Homo sapiens: one gene and its partner. The protein of the gene in region 1 interacts with the protein of each later gene in a pairwise test. Each region holds a gene or a part of one and is shown on either strand. Other genes may lie near its edges.

Region 1 (7,026 bases):
CAATTCTGTAGGGAGAACAACTCCCTATAAAGGAAGAGGTAGTCAGTGTGGTGAGTGGATGGGGTCTCAGGGAAAATGAAATCCCTAGCAGTCGGTGTCAGGGCAGCAGGTCACTAATTGAGTGCAAACCTTTTTTAAAATGTTGTTTATCCCCTACAGGGCATACAAAACCATTGAGGATGAGGACTTGAAGTTCCCCCTTATATATGGAGAAGGCAAGAAGGTAGGCACGTGTGCTTCCCCTGGGTAGAGAGGACAGGGCTCTGTCCCGCCTTCGCTCCACATAGCCCGTGGCAGTCCGTGTGTTCCACTCAGCAGCTTGTGATTTTATAGCCTTGACAGCTTGAAAGCATATCCCATCCATCATCCTTCAGGCCTCCTGTCTTCAGGGTCCAAGGAGTAGTGGGGGTGGGAGGTGGGCGGTGAGCACAAGGGACTCAAGCCAATTTTGTGAAAATAAAGTCCCCCTTCCCAATCCATTTGAATAACTTTTTACAGTGTTTAAACATGAACCACTTTCACACACATCATCTCATTTATATCTGACAACGAGCAAGGAGGCAGGTCAAGCTGGCTGTGTTATATCCATCTGGCAGACGAGGCAGCTGGGACTGTGAGGTTAAAACAGCTCAGGCAGATCACGCAGCCAAGCGAGGGGCAGCTGCGGATGTGGTGCCTTGGCTTTCTGTCTGCTTCGCGCGTCTCAGACTCCACCATGGAAGTCCAGACTTTGCAAGTCTGTTTGCCACTTGCCCCATGGAAGAGAGTCCAAAGCGTCACTGTAATTAGACTATAAGGTCACAGCAACCAGAGTCCAGACTAAGATAACAAAGACCATCATCAGCTCCCAGGGTTCCAGTCAGAATCCAGCACTGAACAGCACGTTGTCGAACCAAAGAAAAGCTGTGGATCCTAAAGTGGTCTCTGAGCAGAGGCCTGGAGGAGGTTGAAATCCTGGAGTGGAGAGCAAGAAGCTTGGAATCTATTTCCTAGTAAGAACAAACACCTTCTGAATCATTGCATTCTTCCTCGGAACACTAATACATTTCAACTCGGTGTGAAGCATTCCAAGTGAAAAATGTGGTCACATTGAGAAGAGTCTTCAACTGATAATTTTTCCAGCATTCGATACGATAGTTTTTATCAAGAAGAAATGACTCAGAAGAAAACCAAAGGATGCCTTCCATGGGCAGAGTGTGTGTGTGTGTGTGTGTGTGTGTGTGTGTCAGAGCAAAAGCAAGAGAACAAACATGGTTAGGTTTTGGGCTCCGTGTAGACCAGCAGTGATTTCAATGCAAAAAGACATCTCAACAGAAGGAGGAATACCAAACACAAATATCTGATCCATGTAGGAATCATTTTTTAAACGAACATACCCCATTCATGAAAATGAACACCTTTCAGATCACAGTCTCTGGTTAAGAATCGTGTCAGGGCTAATAGGCACTGTTCTGATATAAATATTTGTGCCTTTTGGTACAATGGGCACCATTAATGAGTATCATTCAGCCCAATGACCTATGCCTGCAGCTCCATTTCTTTGTGGGGCTGAGATTCTCTGTATTACCCTTTAATATCCAGTGAGTTCCAGTAAACTCAGGAACACATTCTGTTACCCCTGTATCTCTAGTTCCTGTCTAGCCTGGTACCTGACATAAATGCATAAGTATTAAATAAGCTGTTCAGTTATGTTCAGTATACTTTCCTTAGTACAATAGGAAAATGGAATGATGTATTCTTGGAAGTTTATAGCAGTAAGATTTGAAGGAGCAAGAGTTTTCTAATTTTAGTATAAAGTTCAATTCACCAAAACATCATGTTCCTCAAGCATTTCAGGTAATTTAAGCTTGATGGTCTTGCGATGGGCAGGTGGCAAGTTCTGTCCGTGTACCTGTTGGCCTATTTAAAAGCCACCATGTCTCCATTTTGCTTTTGTTGGTAGATACCACCCCTTTCTGAGGACTCCATGAGTTCTTGGAGCTCCTTCTAGATCCTGGACTGGGATTTTCTCTTTCTTCTCCGCGTACCCCTACGCAGAAATTTCAGAGTACTTCTGTGGCCATTACTTCTCATTTTCTTTCTTCAGATGCTTTTAAAGACTGGTGTGGGTAACACCTGGATACTTCGTAAACAAGGTCAGTCACTAGCAGAAACATCAGATTTCTTTGGCTGGAAAGAGCACACAGAGAAGCCGCCATTTCAGGGAGGAGAGCAGGAGAGCCACAAGGGACTCAGAATTTTTCACATTTAGAGTTGAGCACTTCTTGGCTAGAAGGGAGCCAGTCCAGCCTCCCAGCAGGGCAGAGGGCCCCAGGCTTTGCTTTGCATCACTTTTTTTTTTTTTTTTTGAGACATGGCATCAGGCTGGAGTACGGTGGCACAATCTCGGCTCACTTCAGGCTCGACATCCCAGGATCAGGTGATCCTCCCACTTCAGCCTCCTGAGTAGCTGGGACTACAGGCGCATGCCACCACACTGGCTAATTTTTGTATTTTTTGTAGTCAGGAGGTTTTACCACATTGCCCTGGCTAGTCTCAAACTCCTGGGCTCAAGTGATCCTCCTGCCTTGGCCTCCCAAAGTGCTGGGATTACACATGTGAGCTACTGTGTCTGGCTGTGTCTCGTGTCTTTATCCCCTCTGACCCTTGCCCTCAAAAAGGTGTCATGGTTTCATTTCTGCTTAATGTGAACTCTGCCTACCTTCCGAACCAAGGCTGGCTTCAAAATTCACAGCCCTGTTGACAGTCTAGGATGAAGATGAAGACAATATATTAAATTGCAGTGTTTCTTAGCATTTATTTACTTCATCCCCACTCATAGGAGGTAATTACTCTTATCACCCAGGTAATAGAGTGAGGATTCAAGCTCAGGTCTTTGAACCATTTCACTACACCGGATATATTTTTTATGATTAAGGGTTAGGACACTGCTTTCTTCCACCCAGGATGACTTTCACTCCATCCCTCTGTGTCGCCTGTCTTGATGCAATCCACCTTTCTGTGCTAAGTGCCACCTCCTCCGTGGAGCCTTCTCAGTAGAATTTTTACCTCCTCTAAACTTGCATAACCCATTGTCTATGTGTTTTTCAGTACTTAACCATATTTTATGTGTTATTAATTACACATCTCCCTCTTATCTCCCTTACCAAGTTTCTTTTTGGTTTTTTTATTTGTTTGTTTGTTGGTTTGAGACTGAGTCTCACTGTGTCACCCAGGCTAGACTGCAGTGGCATGATCTCAATTCACTGCAACCTCCACCTTCCAGGTTCAAGTGATTCTCATGCCTCAGCCTCCAAGCAGCTGGGATTACAGGTGCCCACCACCATGCCTAGCTAAATTTTGTATTTTTCGTAGAGATGGGGTTTCACCATGTCAGCCAGGCTGGTCTCAAACTCCTGACCTCAAGTGATCCACCTGCCTCAGCCTCCCAAAGTGCTGGGATTACAGGCAAGAGCCACCGCACGTGGCCCCAAGTTTCTTTGTAGTAGGGACGAGGCCTTAGACATTTGTGTCCCCAACATATGATGTAAGTACATAGTAGGCACCCAATAAATGTTTGGGTAAATCAGATCTTCAGCATAACAGGAGATATTTAAGCTGACTGTGTAGGCATTGGTGTAATAGTGTTACTTCCTTACACCATTCAAAAACAGTTCAGGATGAGGTCTCAGCCCTGAGGCCTCTGTGTAGCTATGTCACAGCACTGGTGACATTTTGTTCCTTTCCACCCAGAGGGAATTTGTGGAGATCTTAGCAGGATAGGTTATAGAGTTGATAAGTTTCTTTTCTCCAGCCATAAAACATAATAGGTGAACTCTGGGAGGGCAAGAGCTATTTCTGATTTTTTACACCTTTTACTAGTACATATCACAGGACTAAGGACATAGCTGGTGTTGAGCAAATACTTGTACAGTGGATATGTAACAGAAAGATTGGTGGGTGTGTGGATGGGTGGGTGGATGGATGGATGGATGGATGGATGGATCGATCAATCCTATTGGGTTTGATATGAACTGATTTCTGCAGCTGTAGACGTCACGCATGCATTGGAGTTAGTTTATTGGACATCCTTCCTTCCAGTCTCCAAAAAAAGAAAGCTGAAAAGAAACAGCAGCAACCTGTCAAGCTTAAGATAATGGATAGAAAAAGCACTCCTCAAATACAGAAGTGATTTTGGTGAGCCCTTTCTTGGTAAGAGCTATCCACGTATGTTAGCAGCAAGGGGCCTGGAAACATATCTGGGCAGGAGGAACTGGAAAATTGTTTGGTTGTTCCTAGCCCAGGCAGCTGCACTGGAATGGGATGCTTTCACTGTGTGCGTGTTTCTGATGACCCTCTGCTTATACTCCTAGGCCCGGGTAATGGCAACTATTGGAGTGACCAGGGGACTTGGGGACCATGACCTGAAGGTGCATGACTCCAACATCTACATTAAACCATTCCTGTCTTCAGCTCCAGAGGTACCGCATGAGGTTTTTGTTTATATTTTGTGCAATAAAACATTTTCGGCGTTATTCCTCCTGTGACTCACACCCCATATCCAGACAGTAGCCAACTTGTATTATATGTACTTCCACTGTATCTCTCACGTCTGTGTCTTTTTCCCACTCCATTCTCACTTTGACTCTTCTGGTTCACACCTTCATCACCTCTTACCCAGATGGCTGCACAGCCTCCTCCTGACATTTTCTAAGTCTGCCAATCCATGCTACTTATTGCAGTCAGGTAAATTTTCCTTAAAAACTGACTCCTAATTGCTCAGAAACCTTCAATGGCAGCCCAGGCATGGAGAGTAAAGCTCAGACTCCCATTCACTTGGTGTTCAAGGCTTATTATAATTTGGTCTGGACTTCTCTGATCTTTGTTCTCCTGCACCAGCCAGAATGAACTTGCTGTTTCCCTTACATGACCTTAGGTTTCCCATATTTGCTTAAACTATTCCTTTTGCCAAGAATGCCCTTTCTCCCCAACTCCAAACATCCAAATTCTTTTTTTCTCTGGAGTTTAGCTTAGATGCTTTTTTATGGAGAGTTCCCTGATTTCTTCCTTGCCCAACCAGAAGTAATGTCTCTCCCTACTTGGGATATACATAGAGCACCTTCCACGTACAGTGTTTTCACTGTCTGCCTTCGGTCACAGTTGTTTTGTTTTGTTTTGTATTTTGAGACAAAGTCTCGCTCTGTCGCCCAGGCTGGAGTGTAGTGGCATGATATCGGCTAACTGCAACTTCTGTCTCCTGGGCTCAAGTGATTCTCCTGTCTCAGCCTCCCGAGTAGCTGGGACTACAGGCACACACCACCATACCCAGCTAATTTTTGTATTTTTAGTAGAGACAGGGTTTCTCTATGTTGGTTAGGCTGGTGTTGAACTCCTGACCTCAAGTGATCCACCCGTCTCAGCCTCCCTAAGTGCTGAGATTATAGGCGTGAGCTACCACACCTGGCCTGATCATAGTTATTTATGTATACCTTATCCCCTCGTTAGACTAATTACCTGAAGAGCTTCTGTCATTCAGCTGATGTTTAGAGAAGTTAATTTACAAACAAGTTGGTCATATATTTGGTTTAAAAAAAATCATGTGTCTTACCATATAGGAAACAGTATCGATTTCTATGTTGACTTTCTGGATATATCATTTAGAAATTTTTTTGCTTCCAAATTTGGAAAAGTCTAACCGATAGTATTAGGTTGGTGCAAAAGTAATTACAGTTTTTGCCATTTTTTTTTTTTAATTACTTTTGCAACAGCCTAAGAGTTTAAAGGTAAATTTTTCTCACCCAGTAAGAAGGCTGAAATCTGGTGGCTGCTGGCGTTGGTTCAGCACCTCCATTGTGTCAGGGCTGTAGCGTCTCTGCATTTCTTTGACTTTCCCTTCATGGTTACAAGGTGGTGGCAGTAGGTCCAAGCCTGACATTTCTATGCAAAGATGGAAAGGAGGGGCAGCCTCTGTCCCAACAGATATTCACTTGCCTCTCATTGGCCAGAACTGTGTTACATGACCTTCTAGCTGCAAGGGAGTTTGGGAGAGCAAGAGTTTTAACTCTCCCAATTTCGATAGTAGAAGGAAATCAGGAAGGCATAAGTCAGGAACCAATAGCATTTACTACAATGTGTAATTAAGGTTTTTTGTTTCTTTTTTTTTTTTTTTTTGAGATGGAGTCTCACTCTGTTGCCCAGGCTGGAGTGCAGTGGTGCAATGTTGGCTCACTGCACCCTCCACCTCCCAGATTCAAGTGATGCTCCTGCCTCAGCCTCCCAAGTAGCTGGGATTACAGGTGGGCACCACCATGCCTGGCTAATTTTTGTATTTTTAGTGGAGACAGGGTTTCACCATGTTGGCCAGGCTGGTGTTGAATTCCTGAGCTATAGTGATCCACCTGCCTCGGCCTCCCAAAGTGCTGGGATTGCAGGCATCAGCCACTGCGGCTTGCCTGTAATTAAGCATTAAAATAATTCCTTGGACTGGAAATGCTCAGAACATTTAGACATAACTCTATTTGCATGTACTTCCCAAGAGCAGGTGCTGTTTTAACAAAGACTATTTTGGTCAGAGGAAACAGAAACTTACTAGAGCTAACTCAAAAAAAAAAAAAAAAGTACTGCAAGAAGGCCGGCTATGGTGGCTCATACCTGTAATCCCAGCACTTTGGGCGGCTAAGGCAGGAGGATTGCTTGAGACCAGCATGGGCAACATAGCAGGACCCTTGTTCTTACAAAAAGTAAAAAATTAGTTTGATGTGGTGGCACATGCCTGCCCCAGCTACTCAGAAGGCTGAGGTGAGAGGATTGCTTGAGCCCAGGAGCTCGAAGTTGCAGTGAGCCATGATTGTGCCATGACACTCCAGCCTGGGTGGCAGAGTGAGACGCTGACTCAAAAAAACAATAGTAATAATATTAGAAGAGATATTTATGGTGTCCATGAGCAGAATGATTGAACAGCCAGGCTTTATGGGAAAGTGGTTTTGAAATCAAGGCAGCCCTGCAAAGCCTCCACAGCGGAAAGCTCTCAGCCCTCACATGGAGTTC
Region 2 (7,026 bases), on another chromosome or scaffold:
GCCAAAAAGGCTGGGGACTGCTGCCCTACAGAAACAATACCACCCAAACTCAAATTCTGTATGTAAATCCAGTACTTCAGAATAGACAAAATATTCAACAGAGATACTCAGGTACCTGGCAGGATATAAAAACAGGAACTTACCTTTCGAAGGATATCTTCAGCTAACGTGAGGAACGCCTTTTCGATGTTTATATTTGCTTTTGCACTAGTCTCAAAAAACCTAATACCATGCTCCCTTGCAATCTAAAACAGAAACAAAATATCATCATAAAATTATCAAGCATGGGTTGCCAACTGCTGACTTTAACAGCTTAAATATTAATCTTATTCTGAAGGCAGTGGTCCCAACTAGAATATATAACACAGAATATTTCAGCAAGTCAAGCTCTTTCATAAAACAAACAAAAGAAAAGTAATCTCCTTACCCCAAAAGTTTATTTCAGATATTCTAAGTCAGATACTTCACACTGGGGGCAAACTTATGAGAAGCTCAACCTGACTCCTCAGGGTCTAATTTCTGCTCACCATAGGCTCCTGATTGTCACATTTTAGAACCATACTAATTGATACATTTCCTTAAAGTCCTAAGTTTAAAAACCGAGGATTAATGACTTATATTTTTCTCTCTTTGTAGTTTAAATAAGGCTAAAAATACTATGGGCACATTTGATTCTCCCATACATGTTAAATATGCACTGAAAAAAAATTCACTCAAATGATAAAATATTATTTCCAACAAGCATTTTAAAAACTATGTAATTAGCTTAGTGTGTTCGATCACTATTACTATAAAAATAATCAAAAGTAGCATTACCTTTACAAAGACAGAGCAGAGTATCAGTTTAATTCAGATTTTTACCTGTTCTCCTTTTCCTTTAGGTACAACTCTTTTGTCGTCCATATCACACTTGTTTCCTAGTAACATTCTTTCCACATCTTCATTGGCATGCTAAAATGAAATAAAATTTTACTTTTACATACTACCATGAATTACGGCTTAACAGTCTTTAAAAGTGACTTTATTCTCTCAATTTAGAGGGTCATTTCTATAGCTTTGAAGTTTTAAAGCAGTCACCCTAAAACTACTCCATACTAAAAGCCTACACAAATTCTTAGATTACCTAGCAAAAGAAACGCAATTCCCAAGACATATCCATGTCAAATACTATTTCCTCCCTAAAGGAGGCTGTCTACTTTCTAGGTATGTTCTTTCTTACCAAAAGAGAAGATACAAGCAAAGAAACTTGCATAATCTAAATCCAGGCTGGATCATTTCAGATTTTATAATGCATACTACCCTATAGAAGCCTTAATTAAACATTTTATAGAGCCTTAAACTCTCAAATAGCTGTGCTGCTATGGCACAAGGAGGTCCATGCAGAAAAATCAGTTAAAAACAAGTGGTTGTCCCCTTAAGATCCCAATGACAATTTTTGCAGAAATAGAAAGATCTATCCAAAAATTCATATGGAATCTAACATCAAAAGAATCTCTCTTTTTGAGACAGAGCCTTGCTCTGTTGCCCAGGCTGGAGTGCAGTGGTGTGATCTGGGCTTCCTGCAACTTTCGCCTCCCGAGTTCAAGCGATTCTCCTGCCTTAGCCTCTTGAGTAGCTGTGAGTAGCTGGGACTACAGGTGTGTGTACTACCATGCCAGCTAATTTTTGTAGTTTTCTGGTAGAGATGGGGGGTTTTGCCATGTTGGCCAGGCTGATCGCGAACTCCTGGCCTCAAGTGATCCACCCCCATCGGCCTCCCAAAGAGCTAGGATTACAGGCATGAGCCACTGAGCCCAGCCAAAATAATATTAGCTGGGGGAGTCAAATTTCAGAACTTACTGCAAATCAAAAAGTGTGGAACTGGCATAAAGACAGATACACAGACTAATGGAATGGAATAGAGAGCCCAGAAATAAATCCTCACATACTTAGTCAAATGACCCTCGACAAGGATGCCAAAATCAGTCAATAGGGAAAGGACAGTCTTTTCAATAAATAGCACTAGGAAAACCAGATATCCACATGCAAAACAATGAAGCTGGATCCTTATTTTAAACCATATAAAAAAATTAACTTGAACTAGATCAAAGACCTCAAACTATAAAACTCTTAGAAGAAAACATAGGGAAAAGCTTCAGGACACTGGATTTGGCAATGGTTTCTTTGACATGATACCAAAAGCACAGGCAATAAAAGAAAAAGTAGTTAAACTGTACTTCATCAAAGTTAAAAACTACTGTGCAACAAAGGACGCTATCAAGAGAATGAAAAGACTACCCACAAAAAGGAGGAAATATTTGTAAATCATGTATTTGAAAGGGAATAATACCTAGAATATATAAAAAACACCTAAAACTCCTAACAACAACAAAAAATGACAGCACTTTGGGAGGCTGTCAGGAAAATTGCCTGAGCCCAGGAGTTCGAGACTAGCCTGAGTAACACTGTGAGACCTCATCTCTACAAAAAATTTAAAAATTAGCCAGGCACGGTGGTGTGTGCCTGTAGTCCCAGCTACTTAGGAGGCTGTGGTAGGAGAATCACTTGAGCCTGGGAAGTTGAGGCTGCAGTGAGCCATGATCATCATGCCTCTGTACTCCAGCCTGGGGAACAGAGCAAGAACCTGTCTGGAAAAAATTTAAAAAAAAAAAAAAAAAAAAGCAAGCAAAGGATTTGAATAGACATTTCTTCAAAGAAGATATACAAACAAACAATATGCACATGAATAGATGCTCAATATCACTAAGATTAGGAAATGCAAATCAAAAACCACAATGAGAGATACCACTACATACCCATTAGTATGGCTACTATTAAAAAAACAGAAAACACATATTGGCGAGGATGTGGAGAAACCGACACCTTTGTGTACTGTTGGTAGGAATGTAAAATGGTGCAATCACTGTGGAAAAGTCTGGTGATTCCTCAAAAGGTTACACACAGAATTATCATATGATCCAGCAATTCCACTCATGGGTATACACGCAGAAGAATTTAAAGCAGGGACTCAGATATTTGTACACCAGTGTTCACAGCAACATTATTCACAATAGTAAAAGGGTGAAAACAACCCACATATCCAACAATGGGTGAATGAATAAACAGAACATGGCATATAAAAACAATGGAATATTATTCAGCCTCAAAAAATAAACAAGTTCTGACACATGCTACAATGTAGATGAACCTTGAAAACTTTATGTTAAATGAAGTAAATTACTTACAAATTGAACAAATACTATATGATTCCACTTATATGAGGTACCTATAACAGTCAAATTCATAGAAAATAGAATGGTGACAGTTGCCAGGAGATGGGGAAAGGGGGAGACAGAAATCATTGTTTAATGGATGCAAAGCTTGAGTTCAGAAAGATGAAAAAGTTCTGGAAATGGATGGTGGTGACGGTTGCACAACAGTAGAATGTACTTAACACCACTGAACTATACACCAAAATAATAGTTAAAATGAAAATTTCATGTTGTATGTATTTCACCACAATTTTAAAAAGTATTCAAAAACAACAATAGGCTGAGCACGGGGGCTCATGCCTGTAATCCCAACACTTTAAGAAGCTGAGGCAGGAGGAGCACTTGAGCCCAAGAGCTCAAGGCTGGAGTGAACTATTATCACTGCCACTGCACTCCAGCCAGGGCAACAAAGCAAGAACCTGTCTCAAAAAAAAAAAAAAAAAAAAAAAAAAAAGCAACAACAACAATAAGAAAAACAACAGCAACAAAACTGCCAAATGGCTGCGGTTACTTCATTTCCTGTAGCTATAAGAAAAAAAAAAACTAGGAAAGTTATAAAATATGCTGATTTAAAACAACATACAGTTGACCCTTGAACAATGGGGGTAAGGGTATACCATGTATAACTTTTACTCCCCAAACACTTAATTAGTAACAGCCTGATGCTAACCAGAAGTATTATCAGTAACAGTCGATTAACATATTTTATATATGTATTCTATACTGTATTCTTACCATAAAGTTAGAGAAAAGAAAATGTTATTAAGAAAATCATAAGGAAGAAAAATATATTTACTATTCATTAAGTGGAAGTGGATCATCATAAAGGTCTTCATCCTCAATGTCTTCAAATTGAGTAGGCTGAGGAGGAGAAAGAGGAGGGGGTTGGTCTTGCTGTCTCAGGGAAGGCAGAGGCAGAAGAGGTAGAGAAGGTGGAAGGGGAGGCAGGCACACTCAGTTTAACTTTACGGAAAAACATTGTAATTTCTTTTTTGCTTTTTCATTTCTTTAAAAATATTTCTATACAAAACCAATCCTTCTTTCATCATTTGCTTCAGTTTCAGTGCCTGTATCACACAATGGTCCATGTTGTACAGTAAGTCTAAAGCAGTCTTGAATAATCAGAACCCTTCTGCCAGATTGTCTACAGTCAATTTGTTTTCTGGCACTACTTCTTTGCCTTCTTCCTTATCGTCCAACGCTGGTTTGGAAGCACCGGCATCTTCATTAAATCATCTTCTGTTGATTCCTCTGGTTGATGTCTATTAGCTCTTGTCTTATCCACAGTCTCTTTCATAAATTCCTTGACTGGCTCTGCTACAAATCCTGTGAAATCATGCTCAACATCGGTACACAGTTTTCTCCAGCAGGAAGTTACTGTTTTGTGCTTGATGGCTTTCATGGCTTTTTCTATAACGATGGCATCTTCAGCGGTGTAATTCCTCCAGATTTTCATGATGTTCTATTGAGGTTAGAGTACCGTGTGTTATTAACCTTAAAGGTCCTCATGATCCCCTGATCTAGATGCTGAATTAGAGACTGTGTTCGGGGGCAAGTAGACCACTTCAATGTTTTCGGTGTTAAACTCATGGGGTTCTGGGTGGCCAGGGGCACTGTCCAACATCAAAAGAACTTTAAAGGGCTGTCCCATAATGGCAAGGTATTTCCTGATTTCAGGGACAAAGTATTGATGGAACCAATCCAGAAAAAGGATTCTCAGTGTTCAGGTCTTCTTGTTGAATGATCAAAAAACTGGCAGCTTCAAAAGACTTTTCCCTTCAGGTCTTGGGGGTTAGCAACTTTATACGTAAGGGCAGTCAGTCCTGATCATAAACCCAATTGCATTTGCACAGAACAGTAGTTAGCCTATCCCTTCCTGCCTTAATTCCCTGTGCTTTCTTCTTTTCCTAACACTCATGTCCTTTGTGGCCTGCCCCCCTCCCTGCCACCCCGAGAATAGGACACTTTTAACTGCATTAAAGACTTGTTCAGCGGTGCCCAGGAACTTGTCTGCTGTGTCTTAGTCAGCAGAAGCTGCTTCTCCTGTTAGCCTGCCATTTTTAGGCCAAGCCTCTTTCTAAAATTATCAAACCATTCTTTGCTGGCATTAACTCCTCTAGCTTCTCTTCCGTTTTGCTTTAAGTTGTCATATAATAACTTCACTTTTTCTTGAATATCATAGTCTACAAGTATGCCCTTTTTTTTTGTTTTTTTTTTTGAGACAGAGTCGCTCTGTCGCCCAGGCTGGAGTGCAGTGGTGTGATCTCAGCTCACTGCAAGCTCTGCCTCCCGGGTTCACACCATTCTCCTGCCTCAGCCTCCCGAGTGGCTGGGACTACAGGCGCCCGCCACCACGCCTGGCTAATTTTTTGTATTTTCAGTAGAGACGGGGTTTCAACGTGTTAGCCAGGATGGTCTCGATCTCCTGACCTCGTGATCTGCCCGCCTTGGCCTCCCAAAGTGCTGGGATTACAGGCGTGAGCCACCGCGCCCAGCCTACAAGTATGCCTTTCTTATAGCAATCCTGTACCCACATAAGAGCTGCATTTTCAACATGAGATAAAAAGGTATTCTGTAAAAAGTGCAAGGTTTCACACCTCCTGCTGTGGCTGCAGTGATGGCTTCACAAATTTTCTTTTATTTAAAATGGTCCTTATGCTGGATTAATTTATCTTGAAATAACGGGCAACCACAGCTGCAGACCTCATTCTACAGTACATATTAAGCAATTCAATTTTTTCTTGTAATGTCATGACTTTTCTGTTTCTCAGGATTGCTTCTGGCATCACTAGTGGCACTTTGTATAGGTCTGATGGTGTTATTCAAGGTTTATGGTATTGCACTAGACACGATGAAAACACGCAAGAACCACAAAAGACCTCTTTTGATTGCAATATGGGATTTACTGGAGACACAAACTGTTCACGGGGAGATGATCCACATCACATGGTGTTTTAAGCAGACACTTGGAAACATACGAGCTCACCAAAATAGCAACAGGAGGTGGCTACAAAATTATCACAGTAGTACAGTATGTATTAGTTATTTTTATGCAATTATGATTTAATACTGCATCTCTGTTACATTTCTCTTGATGCAAAAGGTGCCTTGTATGGGCTCTGTGTGTTTGAGTGTTAATAAATTTAAACTTTTAATAATAGATCTGTGTATGTTTTATGGTAGTAATAAAATAGACTAGTATCTACATATACTTTAGACATTCATAATATACTTAACTTTTTCTTAATTTCCCCCCCGCCCAATATTTCTAGGTTATGTGGCTTGTCTGTGAGTTTTTCAAGTTGTTGCAAGTCTCTAACATTTTTTCCAAAAGATTTGTTTTTAAAAACCTGTTTATAGAGCTGGGTGTGGTGGCACACACCTGTAATCCCAGCTTCTTGGGAGGCTGAGAAGGAAGAATCACTTGACCCCTGGAGTTTGAGACCAGCCTGGGCAACACTGCGAGTCCCCATCTCTTTAAACAAAAATATCCATGTGTAAGTGAACCTGCAGTTCAAGGGTCAATGACAGTTTAAAAGGGGGTAGACAAAGGTGGGATTAGGGAGGAAACAACTCTTTTGTTGCAAGGACGATACCCTTAGTAGAATCACAAGCTTAACAAAGAAAAATTATACCGCATGTGGTGGCTCACGCCTGTAAAGCCAGCACTTTGGGAGGCTGAGGTGGGTGGATCACATGAGGTCAGGGGTTCGAGACCAGCCTGGCCAATATGGCAAAACCCTGTCTCTACTAAAATTACTAAAATTAGCCGGGT

What was found.
Region 2: the proteins of PPM1H (region 1) and RAB10 interact in binary tests that used the Homo sapiens proteins (3 or more experiments, as listed by UniProt).

What each region holds. Positions count from the first base shown.
Region 1 is NC_000012.12:62,687,133-62,694,158, reverse strand, and holds part of PPM1H (protein phosphatase 1H), read left to right. Parts: intron 1-159; coding exon 160-223; intron 224-4,352; coding exon 4,353-4,460; intron 4,461-7,026. UniProt on the Homo sapiens protein: Dephosphorylates CDKN1B at 'Thr-187', thus removing a signal for proteasomal degradation.
Region 2 is NC_000002.12:26,121,069-26,128,094, reverse strand, and holds part of RAB10 (ras-related protein Rab-10), read right to left. Parts: intron 952-7,026; coding exon 862-951; intron 246-861; coding exon 144-245; intron 1-143. UniProt on the Homo sapiens protein: The small GTPases Rab are key regulators of intracellular membrane trafficking, from the formation of transport vesicles to their fusion with membranes.